Linked DNA regions of Homo sapiens: regions 1, 2 and 4 are each linked to region 3. Evidence: fine-mapped expression QTL. A gene starts in region 3. Each other region holds a variant in brackets. All regions are shown on one strand. Distances are between the middles of the regions. Region 1 overlaps MAP3K21 (mitogen-activated protein kinase kinase kinase 21). Region 2 overlaps MAP3K21 (mitogen-activated protein kinase kinase kinase 21). Region 3 holds the start of MAP3K21 (mitogen-activated protein kinase kinase kinase 21). Region 4 has its middle 140 kb from the start of MAP3K21.

What was found. PIP is the estimated chance that this variant, and not a neighbour inherited with it, causes the effect.
Region 1: its variant is fine-mapped to the expression of MAP3K21 in amygdala (GTEx, PIP 0.92).
Region 2: its variant is fine-mapped to the expression of MAP3K21 in whole blood (INTERVAL, PIP 0.97).
Region 4: its variant is fine-mapped to the expression of MAP3K21 in prefrontal cortex (GTEx, PIP 0.92).

The regions. Positions count from the first base shown.
Region 1 is chr1:233,376,619-233,381,770 of GRCh38, reverse strand. It overlaps MAP3K21 (mitogen-activated protein kinase kinase kinase 21), which reads right to left. Exons shown (of 10, transcript NM_032435.3): 9 at 2,061-2,840. Among named protein-coding and RNA genes, the nearest start is that of MAP3K21, 51 kb to the right of the region's middle. The variant C/T (reference allele first, on the strand shown) is at 2,583.
Region 2 is chr1:233,383,776-233,388,927 of GRCh38, reverse strand. It overlaps MAP3K21 (mitogen-activated protein kinase kinase kinase 21), which reads right to left. Exons shown (of 10, transcript NM_032435.3): 10 at 3,780-5,152. Among named protein-coding and RNA genes, the nearest start is that of MAP3K21, 59 kb to the right of the region's middle. The variant G/T (reference allele first, on the strand shown) is at 2,886.
Region 3 is chr1:233,325,500-233,330,651 of GRCh38, reverse strand. It overlaps MAP3K21 (mitogen-activated protein kinase kinase kinase 21), which reads right to left and starts at 2,928. Exons shown (of 10, transcript NM_032435.3): 1 at 1,819-2,928. The coding sequence starts at 2,623. It also overlaps a transcript of PCNX2 not described here. RefSeq lists silencers at 2,285-2,484, 2,674-2,825, 2,625-2,924, 3,115-3,414.
Region 4 is chr1:233,461,199-233,466,350 of GRCh38, reverse strand. No RefSeq gene overlaps it. Among named protein-coding and RNA genes, the nearest start is that of MAP3K21, 140 kb to the right of the region's middle. The variant G/A (reference allele first, on the strand shown) is at 2,258.

The sequences.
Region 1 (5,152 bases), 51 kb before region 3:
GAACTGAATAATGTTATTACCACTTTAGCAAATAATTATTGGCTTATAAGTTAGAGAAAAATATGCTTTCATATGGGATTACTGTGCTAGAATTTCTCCTTGTGCAATTATAAATTACCAATACTTATTGACCTACAGAAAGATAATAAACCAATTTATCTAAAGGCAATGAACAATAATATAGAAAATATCATATCCAGATATAATATTTAAAAAGAAGTAAAGGAAAAGATAAAAAGGATGAAAGCAGTTTGTCTTAATATAGCTTTATAACCAATGCTAGCATAGCATTTTACAATTTAGAAAGCATTTTTTGTATATATTACCTCACTTAATATTCATGACAGGTATATAAGGTTATTGCAATTATGTTCACATACAAAATAAATAATACTCAAGCTCTACAGAGCACTTAGTGTGCCATCTGACTTTTACCACGATCTCAATTGTACAGATTAGGTAAGTATAGTATTAGGTATGTATATTGTTACTGTCCCCATTTTATAGATGAAGAAACTGAGGCACAAAATGTTTAAGTGATTCGCCCAAATTCACTCAGCATATAAGCAGAGATATGAGCCCAGCTAGCTTCCATACTATTAACCATGACACTACAATGCTTTTTAAGACATTCAAACAAGAAAGCAGTCTACGTAATTTCCCCAGCATCACAAACTTACCAAATAGTACAACTAGAACTTGAACCTTTGTTCTATGACTCAAAATCCCCCATTCTTCCAAAGTACCCATATTATCTCCTCAAATGTCAGTATTTCAGTGCCACTTAACCCCAGAAATCTCAAAGCTGAGTACATTCTAGCACATGATAGCATGATCCAGTCACATCAATACTCACTGAATTTTAGGAATGGAAAAAATACCGCAGTGAGGAGGAGTGAGACACTGTGATACAGCAGAAGGATCCCGGGTTTAAATTCTGACACCACTACTTCCTAATTGTGTGACCTTGAATAACATTAATTTTCCGTAAGTTTGAATTCTCTTGCATATAATAGAGTTGCCATAAAAACTAAGAGACAATTTATGTCCAAGTGCTTTAACATCTATAAAGTGCTGTGGAAATACCACTGGTTGCCTTCTGCCCAAGCCCCTCTTGTTGAATAGACTAAAAAACTATTTAAAAATTTGATTTTCTTTTCTTTCAGAGATTCCACATCTGGACATAAACCTCATGGAACTGTCTGGTATAACATACATCAACAGGGTAATACTTGCTGTCATGGGGTGAACTGTGTCCCCACAAAATTCCTAAGCAGAAGCCCTAACCCTCTGTCCCTCAGATGTCACTGTATGTGGAATAGGGTCTGTACAGAGGTGATTAAGGTAAAATGAGGTCATTAGGGTGGGCCCTAATCCAATGTGACTGATGTCCTAAAAAGAGATTAGGACACAGATGATTAGGACACAGATGCACTCAGAGTGAAGACTGTGTGAGAACACAGGGAGAAAACGGCCGTCTAGAAGTCAAGGAGCCAGGCTGAGCTCAGAAGGAACCAACCCTTCAGACACCTTGATCTGACTTCCAGCCTCTGGAACTGCTGGACAATGAGTTTGTGCTGAACATCTCTCCATGCTGTGGCACTCTGTTATGGCAGCCCTAGCAGGCTGATCACCTGCTACACACAGTCCCAACAGAAACAGAACAATGACATGTACAGCAGTGGAGGAGACAAGGCCCGCAGGGAGGCGAGAGGCCAGTTTCAGTTCCAGCCCTCCCACTCATCCGTGGTTCTAACTGGGGCAGCTGGCTTGTCTTTCCCGTAACGTGAGGGGGCTGGGTGGTTATTCTCCATGTGTTCTTTCTGCTTTGATATGCTATTATAGGTTTCAGTTACTGAAATTCAATTACACTTTTCCCAGAATCCAAATCATAGTTAAAATCAAATAAGAGAAGGGTAAGGTTCAAAGATCTACATGAACAGTAAAAACAAATTATTAAATGTCATCACCAGGAAAAGATAAAATCATAAATCCATACTGTTTCACATACTAATCTCTACAGCAGTGTTTTATGCTTTTACCTAATTAATGCAACCTACTTGGGGTCGGATTTCCATCAGACATGGTCCGTCTGTGATGTGACGGTCTATGTTTTGAAGAAGCACAGTAAGGTACATTCCCACATGTCTGCTGTAGGAAGGAAGACGGCAAGTTTCTTGATACACTACAATCAGTGTCAAGTCTTGGCATGAGGGCTGGCTCACGACCACTTCCTGGGGCAGTGGGACAAAAATCCGGAGTGAGCATCTCAGAGTCACAAGTGACAGGTGCACTGTCCACCAGTGGATCTTCACTGTCCATCTGCAGCAGGCACTTTGTGGAGAAAGAAGGTGTGGAGAGGATGCCCAGGGCACTTGACAGTGGCAGGGAGGGTGGGCTGCTGGCCTCCCCACAGGTGGATGGCAGGCTTGTGGGAGGACTGGCGCTTCTGCGGGACTTGGAAGCCCGCTGGAAGATTCCCTCTCGTTTCTTCTTCTCTTCCTTGGGCAACGGTTCTTCAGCAGCCTGTGCTTTATGAAGCTCTCTGAGGTCCAGTCCCAGAGCCACCGATGCCAGAAGGA[C/T]GGTGCACCCATACAGAGCTGACTCCGTTTTCTTTCTCTGGGGGGATCTACTCAGACTATTCGTAGGAGTCATCTCAATGGAGACTGTGGCAGCATTCGCAGAGGCTGCCTCCTCCCAGCTTTCAGCTTCTGCAGGATTCTCTCTCTGAGCATCTTTCCCAAGAGGTAGATCAATGTAGGCCTGACTAGGCAATTTTATTTGTTTTGGTTTTCTGTGTTCTAATCCATCAGGGGAAAGTTTTGGCTCTTCACAGGACCCTAAATAAAGGTATAAGTACATACACTGTAGTATCATTTTACAGCAAAAGTCATTTAAACAAGATTGTAAAATAAAGCTAAAATATAATAAATACATATTTTAAATCAAAACACATGCAGCCCTTTTCATTTCTGCAAATGATTCATCCAGGAGGGCTCCATGGAGCAAGAGTCTAGGGCCCTACAACTTCAGGTTCCCTGCAGATGAACCAGCAAGCTAGCCATCTGCTGTTTCCTATGCTTCGGGAAGCTGTTCTTCATCAGCTTCAATAATAGACACTATTGTAGAAACAGTCATCAAAACACAAAAACGCACAACCATAGGCACAAAATCACTAAATATGTCACCAAATGTGCTCTTTTCCTCACTTCACCTAAATACATGCATCAGGCTCCATTATCTACAGCTTTCCTGTGTATAAACTAACTGTTCTGTAGCAGATCAGCAGTTCTCAAAGTGTGTGGCCTGGACTGGCAGCATCTGCATCCCCTGGGAATTTGTAGAAATGTAAATTATTGGCCCACCCCAGACTATGGAATCAGAAATTCTGAAGAGTGGAGTCCAGCAGTCTGTGTTTCAGCTAGCCTTTACTGAAGTTTGGGGACCATTAAAATAGAAGATTCTCCCAAGAGGTTACAGAATCCCAAAGGTTACAAATTATACCCGCTTAAGAGGAAGCTAACATTCTTATCACAAAAGTGACAGCGCATAATTAAACAACAAACTCATTAATCTGATTTCCAAATAACATCTCTAATTTTTTCCAACACTACATCCTAGTATACCTAAACATGCTTGATGATCTAGACCAGGGGTCCCTGAACCCCAGGCCATGGACTGATACCGTGGCCTGTTAGGAACCAGGCTGCACAGCAGGAAGTGAGCAGCAGGTGGGCGAGTGAAGCTTCTTTTGCATTTACAGCCAGTGCCCATTGCTCACATTACCACCTGAGCTCCGCCCTGTGTCAGTTCAGCAGAAGCATTAGATTCTCATAGGAGCATGAACCCCATTGTGAACTGCACATACAAGGGATCTAGGTTGCTCCTTATGAGAATCTAGGATCTGATGATCTGTTGCTGTCTCCCATCACTCCCAGATGGGACCATCTAGTTGTAGGAAAACAAGCTCAGGGCTCCCACTGATTCTACATTATGGTGAGTTGTAGAATTATTTCATTATGAATTACAATGTAATAATAATAAAGTGCACAACAAATGTAATGCGCTTGGATCATCCTGAAACCATCCCTACCCCACTGGTCCATGGAAAAACTGTCTTCCATGAAACTGGTCTCTGGTGCCATAAAGGTTGGGGACTGCTGATGTAGACAATTTGGGGTGCCAGCTTTCTTTCTCCAAAGAACCCTGTGCTCTTCCCTGTGGTGCCTTTTGTTTGGGGTACCCTCTTTTTCCTTCCACTCCCTGACGTTGCTGACCCAAGCTCCCTTTTCCTTCATAAAGGAGAACCTTCAGAAGGAGAAGCTGAACCCAGGTAGTGAGTGCAAAGGTGCTTGTGAAATTGAGCACAGTACCAATAACAAATTCAATACATTTACATTGTGTCTTGCTAAGGCATCTTTAATTTGATCAAAGTACCAAAGAGTCTGCCTAAATGGTCAAGTATAAAGACCAATTTTATTTTCTGTGTTAGTAACCGTGCTTGAAGTTTTTCAACGATTTCCATCTCTTCAATCTTTTAATACTGAATACTGAATACAAATATAGAATATTGAAAGTAAATCATTATGATTCATTTAAATTAAATAGAAATTCCAGTGTAAAACTCTCCAAGGAGTCATTTTTCTTATTTATTTATTTATTTATTTATCTAGAGATAGAGTCTCATTCACTCTATTGTCCAGGCTGGCATGCAGTGGCACAATCTTGGCTCACTGCCACCTCTGGCTCCCAGGTGCAAGTGATTCTCTTGCCTCAGCCTCCTGAGTAGCTGGGATTACAAGCAAGCACCACCATGCCGGCTAGTTTTTGTGTTTTTCATAGTTAACCTGTTTCATTGGATTTCCTCATGTCAACAGGTGGCACTATAGCAAGAAGCCATACCCCTTAATCTCAGCAGAACTTTCAGGGGGGTCTATATTTTTACATCTAATATTTCCCATACTAAATTGATTTGGTTTTACATAATTAATTGTGATAATAATGTTTCTGGTAAGGAAGAAGAGTTACAAATTCCCAAAACCACGTGAAGCCTAATTACTTCCTGCCATAAATACTTGACGGAAAATAACTTCTGAATTTAAGTAAAGCTATAAGAAATGCCATTACTTGCTAATCTCCCCTCTGCTACTTT
Region 2 (5,152 bases), 58 kb before region 3:
CAGAAGAAGAGAGGAAAAGAAGAAGAAAAAAATATTTGAAGATATAATGGCTGAAAACTTCTCAAATGTGCTGAAAACATGGATCTACACATTCAAGAAATTCAACAAACTCCAAGAAGTATATATGCAAAGAGATCCATAACTAGATGTGTCATGGCAAAAATGCTAAGAGCCAAAAACAAAGAGAAAATATGGAATGCAGCACAAGAAAAATGACTTAGGACTTTTCACAAGCTAGCAACTCTGCATGGAGCATTCCTCATCCAGTGGACATCCTGGCTTCCTCAGACACTTCCCTGACACCTCCCACCCACCCAAGATTAGATGAACTCCTTTAATGCTATCAAAGCCCCAGTGACTTCACCTTTTTTTAACACTCCCTTCGCTTGTTGTCAGAATTGGCCGCATAGCTTGTGAGGCCCTGTGAAAGATAAAAATGAGGGCTCCCTCTTTAAAAATTATTAAGAATTTCAAGATGATGTTCACAGAGCATGAAAGTCAGGCTCAGGGACCATCTGAGTGTGAGGCTCTGTGTGACTGCACAAGTCACATGATGTCCATGCAGTTGCCCTGAGCACAGTTTCTCATTAAAACCATCCAGGCAGGGGACAAGCCTCATCTTCCTTGCTCTCCGCTACATCTGGTGTCTCTTTCGTGGTGCCTAACACAGTAGCCACTAAACGAGTTTGTCAGTGTGTGGAAGCTCCTCAATCTAAACTACTTACAGGAAGTCCTCACTTAACATTGTCTATAGGTATTTGGAAACTGTGACTTTAAGCAAAACAAGGTAACACAAAACCAATTTCACTACAGGTGAATTAATAAAAACAGCAGTTAAGTTCCTAGGGCATATTTCTGGTCACGAAAACACCACTAAATCGCTAAATAAAGACCCCAAACACTTCTAACACTAAACATTGAAATAAATGTTATCTATACATACATCTAAGATTAATGAAAACAATTTAAGGTAATTATATACCCAGTGATTCTGGTTCAGGGTCGCAGGTGGCCAGAGCCCATCCCAGCAGCTCAAGGCACAAGGTGGGAATCAACCCCATTCTATGGCAGGGCACACTCACACACCCACACTCTCACACTCAGACAATTGAGACACACCAGTTAACCTGGCATGCATGTCTTTGGGATGTGGGAGGAAACCAGAGTCCCTGGAGAAAACCCACGCAGACATGGGGAGAAAGTGCACACCCCACAGACAGCAGCCCTGGCTGGGAATCAAATTTTTTTCCTCGTTAATATTATAACAGAATGACATTGAATGAAAAAATGTTATGTGTGGACCTGCTATATTTTGCTTGGTTGTAAAAACAATAGCTAGTTTTGTTGTTGTTGTTGTTTGTTTGTTGTTTGTTTTTGAGATGGAGTCTTGCTCTGTTGCCCAGGCTGGAGTGCAGTGGCACAATCTCGGCTCACTGCGAGCTCCACCTCCTGGGTTCATGCCATTCTCCTGCCTCAGCCTCCCGAGTAGCTGGGACTACAGGCGCCTGCCACCACAAACAATAGCTAGTTTTTGTTCCACTCTCTGGTACCGATTACATTGTTTCATTCACAAATACTTCATCTTTCACTATGTTTCAGCATGTTGATCTTTGCAGAAGTAAAGAATAGAGACAGCTTAAGCCCAATTAAATTATTTTATGTGTATATTGCAGTTCTTACATAATTTCACCATATTTATTGTCTTAGTCCATCTGGGCTGTTATAACAAAATAACATAAAGTAGGTGGCTTCTAAACAACACACATTTGTTGCTCACAGTTCTGGAGGCTGGGAAGTCCAAGATGATGGTGCTGGCAGACTCTGTGTCTGCTGTGGGCCTGTTTCCTAGTGTATATATAGCAGTTTCTCACTGTGTCCTCACATGGTGTAAAGGGATAACAGCTTCCTTCAGGCCTCTTTTAAAACAGCATTAACCCCATTCATGAGAATTCATGATCTAATTACCTCCCACCTCTTAATTCCAAAACTTTGATGGTTACGATTTCAACATAGGAATTTTGAGGGACATATTCAGACCATGGCATTTATGAACCTATTGAACAGAATACCTCATTTCTCTGAGTTGATCTATCAGATATGCATATTTTACTCCTTTCTATTGCATTTTCCATTGTATTAAGTGTTATTAGCTAATAGTGTTTTATTTTTAAATAAGTACTGTGAAAGTTAATAATACAAATTGGGCAATTCTTGTCATACATACTCAGTTAAATCAGAACTGAGGGGCCAGAGAGGAAAACATACGTGGGGGACATAGCACCTACTCCACGAATGTATTTTCTCCAAGCCCAGCTGCTGAAATGGCCTGCTGTCACCCCAGGGCCAGTTTTACCTGGTAGCTGCTGAAGCAACAATTTGTGACTCTAAGACTTGTTTTAATTCCTGCCATGACTCACCAACCAGAGCTTGCCAGAGTCCAAAAGCTTCTCTAGTGCCAATGAGCTTTCTTTCAAAACAATATGTAACAATTCTTTAATAAAACTCCTGTCTCTTTGTTCTTTGGACATACTGAAGATCACCTGGTCTCTGTGTATGTCCTGAATTGCAATTCTTGCTTCCTAAATAAAATGTTTCAAATTTCAATATTTATCTCTATATCTTATTTAACTTCAATGGTACTCATACATTTTTAGACTTTTGACTTTTTGATGAGAGAGAAACTACCTTAGCTTTAGATAACATTTACAAAGCTCATTTGCAAGATGTCCTCATCTTCTACACCATGCTTACAACTATTAACCACAGGTGTGAACAGGTAGATGGTGATCACTTGACTCAGACTGGGTCTTTGGAAATTTACCAAACCTTTCTGTGTCTGTTTCATATCTAATGCGATAGGAGTAGTATTACTTATCTCACAGTTT[G/T]TTTTTTTTTTTTTTTTTTTTTGAGATTAAGTCTCACTCTGTCACCAGGCTGGAGTGCAATGGTGCGATCCCGGCTGACTGCAACCTCTGCCTCCCAGATTCAAGCAATTCTTCTGCCTCAGCCTCCTGAGTAACTTGGATTACAGGCGGGCACCATCATGCCAGACTAATTTTTTGTATTTTTAGTAAAGAAGGGGTTTCACCATGTTGGCCAGGATGGTCTCGATCTCTTGACCTCTTGATCCGCCCACCTCAGGTTCCCAAAGTGCTGGGATTACAGGCGTGAGCCACCATGCCTGGCTTTCTCTCACAATTTTTATTAAAGAGAATTACAGGAGTTGTCTTCTATAGGCACCTAGGAGGGTTCCCCATACTTAACAGATATTCAATGCACATTACGTTTTGCTCCCTCCCATGTGGTGGGGTAATGCTATGATCTCCATGAAGTCCTGCGATCTGCTTTCCTCATTCACTCAAGCTTTTATCACTTAGTAAGAATTTCTACATGTTAAGTGGTGTTTGAAATTCCTCTGATTTAAACATAAAATTAAACAATAAAATCAACATGTCTCCTTAATCACTGAGATTTTTTTCTCATACTCATTTCACTCTGCAAAAGTGTGTCTTCTGAAAAGCTGGACTTGCAAAACGCTCACCATGAAATATAACTTTTCAATGCATATGTAAACCAAAAAAATTTGAAATAAAACATTTCATTCTACCTTTTTTGATGTATTTAATTGAATGACTCATTTAGTGATTTTCAGTTTAATATATTTAGCAGGTTAATACCTGGCTTATTAAACAATAATCTTTATTAACACAATTTTTCTTATTGAATACAAAATAAACCATTGCAAACTATAGTCACAATAATCAAGAGAGGATCAAAGCTACTGAGCAAATAGACCAGCTATAAAAGTTTATTAAAAAAATAGACAACATATGTAAACATATTTTTCAGTCACAAGGCTTCATAATACAGCACATTAGGCCCAGGCCTTAAATCTCTGCAGTGAGAGTACCTTAATTTTTTACTAACAGTAATTGACTTATCTTTCAGTGAACATTAAGCCTACACAAAAATAAATAACCAGATTCTGCTAAGTTTACTAACACAGAAAATTGCAAATGTACAATAGATTGCAGCAAAAGTTAACTATCTGCAGTAACATGTGAGATTGAATTGTTATATTACAATTATTTTAATACAGCTTCATTTTGAAATTCATCATAATGTAGAGTTGACTAAAATAAAGCTAAAGGGGAATAATAACAGAGATAAACAAACACCCAGATCACATACACTCCCCAACACACACATGCAAACACACATTTACTAATATGCATGCACACACACACACGCCAACATACATGCACACACATACAGGGATGTTTTGGTAGAAGTAAAACTGAGGACATAGTTTCCATCCTTTTTCTTTCATGTATTGATGATTTTAGGTATATATTTCTCTACCCTTAAGCTGGAAGCTACGTGTTCCAAAAGGACTGAACACAAAGCAATCATAGTTTCAAATGTGATAACATTTTGGGAAAACCAAATCTCTGTTACATAATTCAATAACCACACAAAGTGAAGCCGAATCATAGAACAGATGATAAAACAAGAAAACGTATTAAGTATCTGAGACTTTGCTGCAAGAATCCAGAATGCAAGATCGTTTTCCTTAGGGCAAAACTTACCATGTTAATACAATCCTTTCATACTGTTTCTCATCTGCTGGATATACCTGTTAGGCAACCACAATGCTGCAAAATTGCCAAATAATATGATTTTCCTTTTCTTCTATTATAGGTGAGATATTTTATCACACAATTGAATTTATTTTAAATTGCTGACATTTCAGTTATTCAGTAAACCTTAAGCAAGGTGCAATTTTAAATGAAATATCAAGCAATGTTTTTAATTTAGTTTTTCATTGTTTGGAAAAATTTAAATGTCGATTGTCTGTCTTCTGAAGAGCCACATTCTAGAGACAGAAGGGAAGCACAATACATTTAACATAAGAAACCAAGGCAAATTTACCAAGCTCTCGGGTAGCCATTTCTGCACCAATAACTCTGGATTTGTATCATATATGTATGACCATAAAAGTGATTCATAGATAATTTTATTATTTAAATCCTGATCTGCTATTCAAAGATCCATTTCTGAAAATAATTCATAATATAGTTGTCGTTTCCACCATATGAGCTTATTTCAACAGATGTCTAACATTTATCCACAATTAAATGAAATGTGAAAT
Region 3 (5,152 bases):
GTGTTGTCACAGAGTTGCTGCAACTGCCAAGAGGCAGGGGAAAGAATGAATGGTGCTGTTGATGTCCTTAAAATACCTGGTTCTGCAGAAAACTCCTAACAGACGCAGGCTTTCAGGACACCATTGGAAATAGGGCTTATGGAACACATGGACAAGTCACCCATTCTATGGCAGCACCTGGTCAGACGTTTCTTTTATTGAAAAAAATATATATATATTATCGAAAGAAAAGTATATTTTAGGAAATTGCGCTCTGTTTTTACTGTAACACAGTTCAAAAGCAAGCAATGCTATAGTCCTTCATGTGGTCTGTCAAAGTACTAAGAATACACCGCTACCAGTAACAACATATTTTGTTAGACTTTGCTCTCATCACCTAAGCAGATGCAATCTAAATTATAGAGAGACTTGGGGGGAAGGAGGATCATGAAATAAAACCTAATGCTTATGCTTAGCTACAACATTCCAATTATTTACAATTCCCAGTGAAAATGCTACATTAGTAATTTTCAAGTAAATTTCTTCTTGTCACTCTTCTTTAGGGACAATGTTTTCACTTGAGCTAGCTCCTGTCCTAGCAGGTTTCACAGGATTGAAAGACCTCCAGCTGTTGTAGGCCAATGCCAGGGCTGGCTGCATCCTTTAACCTTCCCTGGGATTTCATCTCATTATAAGAATATGAAGCGATCTTCAATATTAAAGAACCAACATCAAACAGCAATTCTATAGGCTCTTTTATACAGCAAAGTTTCATAGGATTTGCATTTAAGTCATTTGTCAGTTCTTTATTGACATCTGGAAAATCCACCCTGATTTATAAACAAAGTCAATGACACTGGCCAGGTCTTCAAGGTTTCAAGTACCTGTGCAAGGACAATGCACTTGTTATTAACCCAAAAGTGCATTACGGTGCACACCAGTGCCTCTTGTCTGGAGAAAAGAAGCCATTGAACCAATAATAAAATCATATTTCACGTAGAGACACTTTTTTTTTTTTTGAGACAGAGTCTCACTCTATCTCCTAGGCTGGAGTGCAGTGGCGCGATCTTGGCTCACTGCAACTTCCGCCTCCCGGGTTCAAGTGATTCTCATGCCTCCGCCTCCCGAGTAGCTGGGATTACAGGCGCCTGCCACTACGCCGGGCTAATTTTTGTATTTTTAGTAGCGACAGGGTTTCGCCATGTTGGCCAGGCTGGTCTCAAACTCGTAACCTCAGGTGATCCGCCCACCTCGGCCTCCCAAAGTGCTGGGATTACAGGTATGAGCCACCGCGCCTGGCCCATAGAGAGACATTTGAATGAAAACAGTCTTTGGAAAAGGTAAGAGACATGAAGTCATATTTTGAATAGGCAAACAGCAACCTCAATACAGCACTTGTAAAGTTGACGTCCCCGAGTGCATTCGGGGACTTTGATGAAGGCCACCGGGTGAAGACGGTCATGGGTTCCATATAATCTGCAGAAGGCCTCGGTTTGCAAAGTCCTACCCAGATGAATCACCTCTGGTATTGAAAGGCCAGACTGCCCCCTGAGGTTTCTAGGAGATCCAGGTATTTTACAAATGTTTCCTCTACAAGCAAGTCTGGTCTGAACTTTTTTAAAAAGCACCCAAAGGCAAGTCAAGGTTAAGCGTGTCACCAGCCCCAAAGCAAGTAACCAAGGACTAGCTGGACTTCCGAGCCCTGAAGGCCTGGGCATGAGTTGCTGCTGGCGCCCTAAGGCTGACTCCCACCTCTTTCCATCTGGTACTATGTCCTGTGGAGCCCGCCTGGGCTGGCACGGAGGTAGTCTTCCCCCACCTCCCTCTGGCCCCACTTACTGTTGCTGGACTTGAGGTCCCGGTGCAGGATGGGCACGAAGGCCTCCTCATGCAGGTAGAGCATGCCCCGCGCTATCTGCACGGCCCAGTTGACCAGCACGTGCGGAGGGATGCGGCGCGCGCGGCGGGGGCCGGGCGCGCGCGGGTCCGGGGCGGCGTTGGCAGCGGCCAGCGCTCGGTTGAGCGCTCCGCCGCGGGCGAACTCCAGCACCAGGCAGAGGTGCGGCTGCTGCAGGCACACGCCGCGCAGCTCGATGATGTTGGGGTGCCGCAGCATGGCGAAGAGCCGAGCCTCGCGCCGCACGCTCTCGGCAGCCGCCGCCGCGTCCTGCTCCGGGTCCTGGCGCGCCGCCTTCACGGCCACCTCCTGGCCCTGCCAGGTGGCGCGGTACACCTGCCCGAAGCCCCCAGCGCCGATGAGCTCCTTCAGCTCCAGCCGCTCGAAGGCGACGTGTACCGGGGAGCTGGGCCGCGAGGGCGGCGGCGCGGGGCTGGCGGCCGGGCGGCAGGGAGCCACGTAGTTGGCGGGGAAGATGCCGAGGCGCCGCTGCACCTGGCCTGCCCACCAGCCCTCGTCGCCCGACACGGCGGCGTCCTGCGACAGCACCTCCACCAGCTGGCCGCGCCGCAGGCTCAGCTCGTCCTCGCCGCGAGCCTCGTAGTCATAGAGCGCGGCCCACAGCCCCGCGCCCGCCGAGGCCGAGCCGCCCGAGGAGGTGGACGACGAGGACGCTGAGCCGCCGGGGGCTCCCCCGGCCGAGGACACCGGGGTGTCGGTCGCTCCCGCGGCGCCCCGCAAAGCCATGGGGGCAGCTGCGCGGGGAAGGCGGAGCGGGAAGCTGGGCTCAGCCTCCCGGGCGGCCGCGGGCGCGCATCGTCCGGCGGTGTGGCCGTCGGCGCCGGGGGAAGGCGAGGGGGTAGGAATCGCGATCGGTGACGGCAGAGATCACGGGCTAGCTGCCCAAAGGGTCCAGCCTCGGCCCGCGTTCCTGGCCAGCCGCCTCTGCTGCCGCAGCGGTCCCCGAAGCCGCGGGCGACGTCCCACCATGGTCGTGCCCAGGCCCTGCGGCCGGCCCGCCCGCCGCGCGCTCCTTAGCCAGAGCCTGGGACGCCCCACCCCACCCTAGCCGCGCCAGGGCCGCCCCGCCCCCTCCGGCTCCATTCCGCACCGCCCCCCCACCCCCCCGGGCCCGCCCCTAGGCCAGTCCCCAGGGCCTTCCCGCCCCTCCCCCAGCCGCCCCGCCCTCTCCAGGTTCATTCCGCCCTCCTTGACCCGTCCCGGGCGCCCAGTCTGCGCCCGCCCTATGGGACCGCCTTCCTAGGTTCGCCCCACCCTTCCCCACCAACTGCACCATCCCGCCCCGCCCTCGCCAGGTTCACTTCCCTTTTCTGTGCCAGTCCCCAGAGCCTCGTCCCGCCCCTGGCGCCCGGGCCCGTCCCCCACCACCTTGGGCCGGGCCCGCCCCCTGGGCCCGCCTGGCTGGTCCCACCCCGCCCCCGCCGCAGGTGCTCCGGAGCAATGGTGAGCCGCGCCCACATGGTCTGGGAGGCGGGATCGGCCGTCATCCGCTATAAATTTTCGGGAGAGTTTAAATTAAGCCAAAGGTAAGACTGAGGGAGGGGACGCTTCTCCAAGAAGCGGTGGGAGAGGGTTGAGAAGATGTGGGGCTTTAGGGTGTGGCGGGGAGAGAGAGAGTTGCAGTTCAGGGAGAGTGACAGAATCTCAGAACGGGCTACAGAAGAAATTGTAGCGCGGTGCCAGACCTGGGCCAGTGCGAGTGGCAAGTCACCATGCTAAGTGCGTTTGAGCCACCGTGCATCTCAGAACTGACTAGGTTACAGATCGCAGCGCAGAGTGACCCGTGGTCGGTATAGTCCCAGAAGCTCCATGATGGTAAATCCTTTGCTTATTTTTACTGTCTACTCAGATGGAAAATGCCCCAGTCTCCCTGGAAACCCACAGGTTTGGGTTTAGGAAGCATTGGCAATGGCTGGGTGCCAGACGTTGGTAGGTTACTGTGGCAGGTGATGAGGCTAAAAAGATAGAAGAGCTTAGTTATTAAAATTCTAAAATATTAGATTATCCTGTAGTAGGCCAGAATTTCCTAACGTGTGGATCCTGTACTTCCAATAACAGAAGGGACAATTTTAGATATTATGAGGATAGGACATACAGTAACATTCTGAGTTACATAAAGATAAATTTATTGTCTTTTCAGTTTTCTTTGTCTCTCAGATCAAACTATTTATTGGCTGTGTGACCTTGAGCAAGTTTCTTTATTTCTCTATGACTCAGTTTTCTCATCTATAAAATGGGAATATAATAAATAGTACCTACTTTATAGGGTTTTTAGGAAGACTAAATGAGTTAATAGTTTTACAGTGGGTCTTCTGCATCCACAGAATCAACCAACAGCTGGTCAAAAATGTTTTTTAAAAACCCAAAAAATAACAATACAAATAATACAAATAAAATACAGCATAACAACTATTTACAGAGCATTTACATTATATTAGGTATTATAAGTAATCTAACTATTTAAAGTATGGGCATACTTTGGAGATACTGCAAGCATGGTTCCAGATCACTGCAATAAAGCAAGTGACATGAATTTTTTGATTTCCCAGTGCATATATATACAAGTTATGTTTCCAGTATACTGTAGCGTATAAAGTGTGCAATAGCATTGTGTCTAAAGAATGTTTATACCTTAATTTTAAGTACTTTATAGGTAAAATGTGCTAATGATCATCTGAACCTTCAGCAAGTCATAATCTTTTAGCTGGCAGAGGTCTTGCCTCTATGTTGATAGCTGCTGACTGATCAAGGCAGTGGTTGCTAAAAGTTGGAGTGGCTATGGCAAATTCTTAAGGCAACTATGAAGTTTGTCACATGGATTGACTTTACCTTTCACGAAAGACTTCTCTGTAGCATGGGAAGCTGTTTGATACCATTTTAACAACAATAGAACTACTTTCAAAATTGGAGTGATCCTTCTCCCACCCTGCTGCTATTTTACCAACCGAGTTTGTGATATTCAAAATCCTTTTTGTCGTTTCAAAATGTTCATAGCATCTCCTCTGGGAGTAGATTCCATCTCAAGAAACTACTTTTTTTGCCTCTCCATAAGAAGCAACTCCGCTCCTCATCTGTTCAAGTTTGATCATGAGATTGTAGCAATTCAGTCACATTCTCAGTCTCCACTTCTCGGCTCATGCAAGCTCCGCCTCCTGGGTTCGCGGCATTCTCCTGCCTCAGCCTCCCGAGTAGCTGGGACTACAGGTGCCCACCACCACGCCCAGCTAATTTTTTTTGGTTTTTTTTTTTTTTGTA
Region 4 (5,152 bases), 140 kb before region 3:
AAGATGGTGGGCGGGGGGCCAAGGCCAGGGCAGGGGCAGCGGCAGGCTCAGGCATGGAGGGCTGCAGGTCCCGAGCCCTGTCCCGCAAGGAAGAGGCTGAGGCCCGGCAAGAATTCGAGCATGGCGCAGGCGGGCTGACAGTGCTGGGGGAACTGGCGCACCCTCCGAAGCTGCTTGCCTGGGTGCTAAGCCCCTCACTGCCCTGGGCCAGCGGCGCCGACCGGCCGCTCCGACTGCGGGCCACTGAGCCTGCACCCAGCCGGAACCCGGGCTCGCCACAAGCTTCACGTACAGCCCTGGTTCCCGCCCGGGCCTCTCCCTCCATACCTCCGGGCAAGCAGAGGGAGCCAAATTCGGCCTCGGCCAGCCCAGAGAGGGGCTCCCACAGTGCAGCGGCGGGCTGAAGTGCTCTTCAAGCGCAGCCAGAGTGGACACCGAGGCCGAGGAGGCGCTGAGAGTGAGCGAGGGCTGCTAGCATGTTGTCACCTCTCAAAGAGATCTTCCTGCCTCAGCCTCTTGAGTAGCTAAGACTACAGGCATGTGCCACCATGCCCAGCTAACTGTTTTAATTTTATTTTTAGAGACGGGACTTTGCTTATGTTGCCCAGGCTGGTCCTGAATTCCTGGGCTCAAGTGATCTTCCCACCTCAGTCTCCCATTCATGAGGGATTCATTCCCCGCCCTCCATGACCTAAACACCACCCACTAGGCTCCACTTCCCAAGGTCACCATATTGGAGATCAAATGTCAGCATGAGGTTTGATGGGGATAAACAAATCTCATCCAAACAGCAAAGAAGGAATGAGGCACAGAAGCCCTGAGAGAATAAAGAGGTTCCCAGCAGAGAAAACATGGAGCAAGACCAAAGTGTGGCACTTTTGAAAATGATTTGTCTAATTGGAGTAAGAGATACAGTTGGCAGAGTAGCGAGGAAGGCAGAGGCCAGACCAAGTACAATGTCATGTGCTAGTCTCAAGAATTTTGCTTTAATCCTGAAGGAAGCTTTGAAGTGTATTTAGCAGAGACGTGATGGAATCCAGAAGTTTAGAGGGAAACACTAGAATGCAGTACGGGAGGAGCATCTCCCAACCCTGGAAGACTGGAGTCCAACCAGCATGTGCCAGGTTGTCTCTTCTCTCTGCTACAGTTCTTTATTCATTGCTACAGTTCCTTATTCACATGTAACTGTAGGCTCCCTTCATCAGTTTAGGAAAACAAATGAGGTCACATATCTTTCTAACTAGCTTCTTGAGCCACCACACAGTCAAATTAACTGGAACCCCAGGGTCTCCTTCTTAGGACCTTTTTCCAATTGTAAAAGAATCTTGGTGTTTGCTCTGCTTAATGGGGCGAATCCAAACAGTGTTCAGGAAAAAAAATATATAAAGAATGTCCCGAGCCTATGATAAGACCTTGGCTTTTATGTGCCATTTCTCCTATAGCTATTGGTCTGATCCATGCCTTCTCCAATATCATTCCAGGACCCCAAGGAAAACAGAGCTACATAGGAAGGAACTCCAATAAAGTGGCAACAGTGATCAGATTTGGGATTTCAAAAGGTTGCTCTGATGTCAGAGTACACAGGGTTGGACCAAAAGGGAACACAGCTAGAGGCAAGGAGATCAATGAAGTTGCCCATGCAGTGTTTTAGATGGAAAGTAATAGAAGCCTGAAGAAGGGAAGTGGGGATGGAGAAGAGGGCAGAAGCATGATATAGGTCAAAAGCATAAAATTGACAGCATCTATTGACTGTTTGGATGTAAGGAGTAAAAGGAAAATAAAGTTGATAGTTTATATAGACCTTCCTTGGGAACGGGGTAGATGCCAGTGAGATTCCACAAGATTAGGGATGCAAGAGTCAAGATAGGCTTGGGAAATGGTGAAGGCAGTTGATGATCTCAGGTTTAAGCGTGTGAAGTGGGGTGCATGGGGAAAAACTATAGGAATGTGTCTCAAGGTAGTCAGGTATATAAGCATGGAACTCATGAGAAACGTCTGGAGATAGGGATTTCAACTCACTGGTTTGTAGGTAATAGTTGAATTGGTGTGGACAAGAGCTGCAGGAAGAATTGTTGAATGGGATGAGGGCAGAACACTGGGGAACCCAAACTCTAAGGATTGAGCAAAGATGTCTGAGAAGGAGCACTACAGAGGTTGGAAAAGGAAGACTTCAAAAAGACAGCAATCAGCATCCTGCACTGCAAGAAGGCAGGTCAACTAACAAGGACCTGAAGTGCTTCATTAATGATCTTGGTGA[G/A]AGTGAGGAGTGGGCACAGAAGCTTGACCAAAGTAAAAGAGGAGAAACAATAAGGCCAGGGTTATTTTTCAGAAAACCAGGTGATGAGGGACAGCATGGAATAAAATGACAACTGGAGAGGGAGGTAGGGTCAAGAAATGGTGTGTGGTGTGGTGTGTGTGTGTGTGTGTGTATGTGTGTGTGTGTGTGTGTGTGTATGTGTGTGTGTGAATTTCTCTGCCACTTTTTTAATCCCACAGAGAGTGGCGTTCGTTTGATGTCTACAAGTCTTAGAAGGGCCACTGACTCCCCAGATGCCCCTCCTTCTCCCTTTACCTTAGGGTTATAACTGGGCATTCACTCGTCTTAGAATCCCCCTCTTTTTTCATAGGGTTTTGGGGACATCACATAGGATTCTAGGCCTTGGTGGGTTTGACACATCATAGCAGTCAGCTTATTCAGTCTCTTTTTCTTATTTAACTAAAGCTCTGCCCATGTCTTCTATAGTTATGGGAAACTACTCTCATCAGCCAGCCGTGGCGTAGCACCACACCCAGGGCTGTCCATGCTTGTGTGGTCCATATAAATAATCATTTCAACTGGGAAATTTTGAGAATAAAAGGAGTGTTGTTAGCAATGACTGACAGACAACAGGTGCAAATGGAAATTGTCCCCGTCAAATGGAGACATAGTCATAGACAGTCAGATGATCCCTACTCATTCTTCATATTTGCATTGTCACAGCTCAAAACACATGAAGGGATTTTATATACATTGTATTATTTGAGGCTTTTTAAGTAGCACACATTATTTTATTTTATTATGAGATGGAATCTCCCTCTGTTACCCAAGCTGGAGTGCAATGGCACGATCTCAGCTCACTGCAACCTCTGCCTCCTTGGTTCAAGCAATTCTCCTGCTTCAGCCTCCTGAGTAGCTGGGACTGCAGGTGCATGCCACCACACCCAATTAGCTTTGTATTTTTAGTAGAGACAGGGTTTCACCATGTTTGCCAGCCTGGTCTTGAACTCCTGACTTCAAGTGATCCTCCTACTTGGTCTCCCAAAGTGCTGGGATTACAGACGTGAGCCATCGTGCAGGCCCACGCATTACTTTAGAAATAAATAGGTAAAGGAAATCATGTTTGCAGAATCTGAGCTGGCACGGACTGCCTGGTGCAAACCCCTCATTTTATAAATGAAGATCCCAAGGCCCAGCTCTCTGGAAGCTCCAGTAAGACCTGAATAACTATCAGATTTGAGGTCCCTCCTACTTTAGATCCATTCCCCCAGCCTCCACCAATTGGGAGGGGAGCCAGAGGGGAGGGTGTCCATGGATTTGCCTTGGGAGGAAGAGCTATGAGGAAGTCTTCATGAATTTGTCCCTGAATGGCAGCCAAAGCAGGAAGCCTCCTAAGTTTGGAATGGGGGTCAGTGGAGCTCAGGATCTATATCCCGCAGAGCATATGGAGGCCCAAATCACTGTCTCCTCCTCTGGCTCAGAGTTTCCCTATTTCAGTCTGCACCTGCATCTTACATCCCACAACGAAGTGGAGCCTCTGTAGCAGTGGCAGACTACAGGTCTGTATTTACATGGGTCCGTATTTCATCTGCATCGTGACACCAGCCTCCACCACTTTCTGTGCCACCCAGTTCTGGGAGGGAAGAGATTTCATGGTTTTGATGGACTCTCTTAGAGCTATTTACATGCATGAAACAATTAGGAAAACAAAAATAAGGGAGCGTGATGATTAAGTTTTGATGTTAATTTGACTGGAATAAGGAATACCTAGAAATCTGGTAAAGCGTTTTTTTTCTGAGTGTGTCTGTGAAGGTGTTTCCAAAGGAGATCGGCATGTGAGTCTGAGAGGACTAAGTGGGGAAGATCCACCCTCAATGTGGGCAGGCACCATCTAGTCTACTGGGGACCTGCAGAAAACAAAAACAGAAAGGGCAAATAGGTTAATCTCTCTACTAGAGTTGGGATATATTGTCCCTCTCCTGTCCTTGGACAACTTCAGGCTCTCTGATCTTTGGACTCCACGAGTTACACCAATGACCCCTGGGTTCTCAGGCCTTTGGCCTTGGAATGAGAGTTACACCATCATCCTCTGGCTCTGATGGCATCACTCCTGGCTCTGATGCCTTTGGACTTGTACTGAGCTGTACTACCAGAATTCCCAGGTCTCCAGCTTGCAGACAACCTGTCCTGGGACTTCTCAGCCTCAATAATCATTTGAGCCAATTCCCCTAATAAATCCTCTCCCATCTACCTATCTATATCTACATCCATATCTAATCTATGTCTATATCCATCTCCTATTTGTTCTGTCTCTCTAGAGAATCCTGACTAATACAGAGAGTAACAAAGCATTTTTCTCATGTTTTATCTTTCATCTCAGAATCTAATTAATCACTTCCTTAATTACTTGAATGAGCCACTGGAGGTTTGGGGTCATGATTCCTGCTCTATTTATATCACCTTGTTTTTGATGAGATGACCCTACCTCTGAATACTGAGTCTAAACATACCAATAAAAAGATGAGAGACGGCCGGGCACGGTGGCTCACACCTGTAATCCCAACACTTTGGGAGGCCAGGGCGGGTGGATCACTTGAGGTCAGGAGTTCAAAATTGGCTTGGCCAACATCTAATTTAATAGAGATGACATCTAATTTAGTAGAGACGAGTGAAACCTCGTCTCTACTAAAAATACAAAAATTAGCCAGGCATGGTGGCAGGCGCCTATAATCCCAGCTACTTGGGAGGCTAAGGCAGGAGAACCACTTGAACCCAGGATGCAGAGGTTGCAGTGAGCCGAGATTTTTGCACCACTGCACTCGAGCCTGGGTGACAGAGCTTCATCTCAAAAAAAAAAAAAAAAAAAAAAAAAAAAAAAGATGAGAGACCTGTTCC